Linked DNA regions of Homo sapiens: region 2 is linked to region 1. A link means that fine-mapping ties the variant in region 1 to the expression of a gene that starts in the linked region. Tissue or cell type: cerebellum. Region 1 holds a variant in brackets; the other region holds the start of a gene. All regions are shown on one strand. Distances are between the middles of the regions.

Evidence for each region. PIP is the estimated chance that this variant, and not a neighbour inherited with it, causes the effect.
Region 2: PIP5K1C starts here. The variant in region 1 is fine-mapped to the expression of PIP5K1C in cerebellum (GTEx, PIP 0.95).

The regions. Positions count from the first base shown.
Region 1 is chr19:3,555,219-3,557,718 of GRCh38, reverse strand. It overlaps MFSD12 (major facilitator superfamily domain containing 12), which reads left to right and starts at 133. Exons shown (of 10, transcript NM_174983.5): 1 at 133-613. The coding sequence starts at 316. RefSeq lists silencers at 1-247, 288-357, 538-707. The variant G/T (reference allele first, on the strand shown) is at 1,037.
Region 2 is chr19:3,698,914-3,701,525 of GRCh38, reverse strand. PIP5K1C (phosphatidylinositol-4-phosphate 5-kinase type 1 gamma) reads left to right here and starts at 1,058. Exons shown (of 18, transcript NM_012398.3): 1 at 1,058-1,229. The coding sequence starts at 1,136. RefSeq lists silencers at 810-1,299, 1,380-1,519 and an enhancer at 1,218-2,001.

The DNA of each region.
Region 1 (2,500 bases):
GCCACGCCCCTCTCCTCTCTCCTTGGCGATTGGCTGCGGTTCCCCGGGGCGCGGCTCCGATTGGCTCAGGCACCGGAACCTCCCCGCCCTGCCCCGCCCGGCGCAGTCGCCCGGCTCTGGGGCCCGGCGGCTGCAGAGTCGAGCGTGGGGCGGACGCGGCGGACGTGGGTGAGGGCGCGGCCGTAAGAGAGCGGGACGCGGGGTGCCCGGCGCGTGGTGGGGGTCCCCGGCGCCTGCCCCCACGGCACCCAAGAAGGCCTGGCCAGGGTACCCTCCGCGGAGCCCGGGGGTGGGGGGCGCGGGCCCGGCGCCGCGATGGGCCCGGGACCCCCAGCGGCCGGAGCGGCGCCGTCCCCGCGGCCGCTGTCCCTGGTGGCGCGGCTGAGCTACGCCGTGGGCCACTTCCTCAACGACCTGTGCGCGTCCATGTGGTTCACCTACCTGCTGCTCTACCTGCACTCGGTGCGCGCCTACAGCTCCCGCGGCGCGGGGCTGCTGCTGCTGCTGGGCCAGGTGGCCGACGGGCTGTGCACACCGCTCGTGGGCTACGAGGCCGACCGCGCCGCCAGCTGCTGCGCCCGCTACGGCCCGCGCAAGGCCTGGCACCTGGTCGGTAAGCGTCCCGGCCCCGCCACCTGTCGGGCAGCCCCTCCGAGACTCCGCGACCCGGGCGCCTCCTCCCTCTGACTCACCACCCGCCGTCTGCCTGCCTCAGGATCGGAGTCTCCCCTCGGTCTGTCTGTCCCGTGGCCCGAGCTTCCCTGCACTGTCTGTCCACGGCCTTAACCTCCCCTATGTATCTGTCTGCCCTATGAGCTGAGTTTTCACCCCTCTGTCTGTCCCCTGGCCCGAACCTCCCCTGTCTGTCTGTCTGTGCCCATGGCCTGAGCTTCCTCCATCAGTCCCACCACCCAGCCCCCTCTCTCTGCCTGCCTGGGACCTAAGTCTCCCCTGTTTGTCTGCCCCATGAGCTGAGTTTTCACCCCTCTGGCTGTTCCGTGGCCTGAGCCTCCCCCGTCTGTCTGACTACCCAGTG[G/T]CCCCTCTGTGGTGTCACTCCTGAGCCTCCCCTGCCTGTCCCACCATCCAGCATCCCCCGTCTTTCTGCCCCATGGCCTGAGCCTCCCCCGTCTGACTGTGCTGTGCCTCCCCCATCTGTCTGACTGTGCAGTGCCTCCCCCATCTGTCCAACTGTGCAGGGCTTCTCTATCTGCCTGAGCCATGAGCCTCCCCCATCTGTCTGTTTAACTGCCCCGTATCCCCTCTGTCTGTCCCTTGGTCCAGCCTCCCCTGTCTGCCTCAGAGCTGCTGTCTGACCTGCGGGGCCCTCACCATCTGACTACATGACTTTCTAGTGGGAATGCCTTTGTTTGTCTGAGCCCCCGGGCCACCCTGAACCCTCTGGAGGGTTGGTGGTGACTGCTCAGCGCCTCCTTTGTCAGTCTGTCTAGCCTGAGCTCGTCTATTAGGGTGACCAACTGGGACAGCTATGGCTGAGGGACAGTCAGGCCCCCTAGAGCCTCCTCTCTCTCTGTGTGTTCTGCCAGGGCAACCTGGTGCGTCAGCAGTTTGAGGGTGCTGCTCCGGGAGTTGAGAGTTGGGAGCCGCCTGGGTGGGACTGGAGGGTCAGGGGTCTCTGCCCTGTTCTTGCATTGCCTCTATCTGTCTGGCCAGGGTCAGGGACCCCCTAGGTCTGGGGGAGCTGCCCTGATTAGAGAGGGCTGTTGGGAGGGCAGGAGGCTGGCGTCATGGGCTGGGTCACCCTGCCCCAGTGCCCATCGATAAGACTGCAGGGCTGCCTCCCAGCGGCCCTCCTCTCCCCTCCCGGACCCTGGGCCTGAAGATTAGCCGGCCTCCTTCCCTGCTCTTCTTGCCCTCACAGAAGTGCCGGCTGCGTCCTGGCATTTGGGACACATGTGGCATTTCAGCAGGCAGGGCCAGGAATCCTGCTCAGTTCTTGGAATTCCAGGTGGCAGGAGGGGCAGGCGGGTGCCTCCTCACCCTTGGGAACAATGACTGGGATGGGTGGTTGGACCCAGGATCTGGGTGATGACATTTTTTGCAAGAGGCAGTGGATCTCCAGTGGTCTGAGGGTGGCAGGCTCCGCAGCAGGCACAGCTTGGGGACTGGAGTTTCATGTTTCCTATGTCCAGGCTATTCCTGGGGTACCTGAGGCGGCGGCAGACAGGGAGGGGACCGGCTGTCCCTTCCTTTGTGGTTACGTTGGGATTGGTTGCTGAGCGGAGCCCAGGGCCCCAAATGCCTCTTTGATCATAATAGTTGGATAAGCTCTTTGACAGTCGCGTAAGATAATTTCTGGGCGGGCCGGGCACGGTGGCTCACCCCTGTCATCCCAGCACTTTGGGAGGCCTCCTCACCTGAGGTCAGGAGTTTGAGACCAACCTGGCCAACATGGCAAAACCCCGTCTCTACTAAAGTACAAAAATTAGCCGAGCGTGGTGGCGCACGCCTGTAATCCCAGCTACTTGGGAGGCTGAGGTGG
Region 2 (2,612 bases), 140 kb before region 1:
ATGTAGTGTGTATATCCATGTTATTGGCATGTAGTGTGTATATCAATGTTATTGACATGTAGTGTGTGTATCAATGTTAGTTACATGTATTGTGTAGATCAATGTTATTGGTATTCATTGTGTATAGCAATGTGATTGGCATGTATTGCATATAGCAATGCTATTTGTATGTTTTATGTAGATCCATGTCAATGATATAGTATAGATTCATGTTATTGGCATGTATTGTGTATATCCATGTTATTGGCATGTATTGTGCATATCCGTGTTATTGGCATGTATTGTGTATATCCATGTTATTGGCATGCATTGGGTAACTCCATGTTATTGGCATGTGCTGTGTAGGTCCATGTGTGGTTTTTTTTGGGACAGAGTCTCACTCTGTGGCCCAGGCTGGAGGGCAATGGTGCGATCTCAGCTCACTGCAACCTCTCCCTCCTGGGTTCCAGCGATTCTCCTGCCTCAGCCTCCCGAGTAGCCGCGATTACAGGCATGTGCCACCACGCCCAGCTATTTTTTGTATTTTTAGTAGAGACAGGATTTCACCATGTTGGTCAGGATGGTCTTGAACTCCTGACCTCAGGTGATCCGCCCTCTTCGGCCTCCCAAAGTGCCGGGAATATAGGCGTGAGTCACCGCGCCCGGCCAGATCCATGTTATTGTCATGCGCTGTGCAGGTCCCTGTTATTGGCATGTGCTGTTTAGATCCATGTTATTGGCATGTGCTGTGTACATCCATATTATTGGCACGTGCTGTATAGATCCATATTATTGTCATGTGTTGTGTAGATCCATGTTATTGGTATGTGTTGTGCACAGCAATGTTATTGATACGTATCGTGCCTGTCAATCTTACTGACCTAATACGATGGAATGGCGAGCCTGGCTCTGTACTCCCACCCCTGGGCGCGAGGGGGCACTCGAGGCGCTCCTGGCTGCGGGTCGCAAGCAGGCCCCGCCCCCGAGCCCCGATTGGCCGCGCGCCGTCCGCGGCGTCGCACGCACGCAGGCCCCGCCCCGTCCGCCCCGCGCCGGCCCGGCGCGCCCTCCCTTGGCCGGCGGCGCTTGTTGTTCGGCGGCGGCGGTCGCAGCTCGGGTCCCCCTCGGGCGCCCCCGCCGCCGTCCGCGCGCGGCCATGGAGCTGGAGGTACCGGACGAGGCGGAGAGCGCTGAGGCGGGGGCCGTGCCCTCGGAGGCGGCGTGGGCGGCAGAGAGCGGGGCGGCGGCAGGTAACGGCCCGGCCTCCCGGGGCTGCGGCCCGCTGGGCTCGTCCGAGCGCCGAGAGTCGCGGGGCTGCGGGGCCGGGGCGGGGGCTGCACGGTCGCTGCGGGGGCGCCGCCGGTTCCAGGAGCCTGGGGCGGGGCAGTCCCCTGGAGCCGCGGGGAGGACGGGGCTGAAGCCGCGCCGGGAAGCGGGAGGCCTGCGAGGGGCTACCTCCCACCGCTCCCGGGCCGGGGGCGACTCGGCGTGGGCGCCGCTGGGGATCCCCGTTCTGCCTGACCCGCTCCCAGGGGCTGCCCGTCGTGTGAGTGGCGGCTGCTTGGGTGGAGGCGGGGGTCTCTGAGGCCGTGCGTGCCCACCTCCTGATGTCACCTCCCTTTCTGTAAGTCCCCAGACCTGAGTCCGGGTGCGCGACCTTTCCTCACCTTCCTGGGCCTCAGTTTACCTCCCTGCTAAAATGAGGGGAGGAAAAGGGTTACATCTCAAGATGCCTCCACCGCCCCGGCTGTGCACACAGGGTGCCCTGTCGCCCCCTTTTCCTCTCCCCGAGCCTTCCCCCAGGACACACTGGTGGGGCTGCGGGCTGGGCGGGGGGCACGGCTGTCTCATGCCCCCTTTAGCTGCTTCCTGGACCTCCAGCCGGGTAGGTGGCGGCAGCTGGGCCTTCCCTTCTGTGGGGACGGTGTGCAGAGCCCAGAGGAAGGGAACAGTTCCTTCTCAGTCGAGGTCACAAGCTCCCAAATCGGAAGTTTCCGGATTCACAAAATCCTCTGCTCCTCCCAGGCAGCCAGCAGCAGCGTCTCTGTAGACACCCACACGGGCATCCGTCCTCCTTCTCCCCCCAGGCCTCCCGAAGCTTCCTTGGTTGGCAGGCGGGCAAGCGGGCGGGCGGGCGATGCGTGCTGCCTGGGAGTTGGGGAGATGTCTGGAGAGAGAGAGAGTGTGGAAGTCATCAAGTCCCCCCCCCACCCCCCGCCTTGAAAGACACTCGTGGCTTCCCTCCCGGCGGCCATCTGGAACCGCTTGGTAGGTGACCCGGTTCCTTCCCCAGAGCCAGTGGCCTCGCCCCTTTCTTTGCGGGCAGCCGGTGTCCTGGCCTGGCCAGCAAGAGACATGGTGGAGGAACCCAGGCAGGGCACCAGGCCCCAGCCCGGGTTCCTTTCTTGGGCCCCCCAACTTCCGCTGTCAGCCCTCTGACCCCAGCTGGTCAGAGACAAAGTAGCCCAGGACTCGCTGACCAAAAGAAAACCACACCGCGACCATTCATCTTATCAGGGGCTCTGGGAGCACCGGGGACAGATAAAGTTGCCAGCTCCAGACTGAGCATGGTGGTGGGGTGGGAGAGCGGGGGAGTGGGGGGGTGGGGGTGGGGGGCCGGGGAGGGCTGGAAG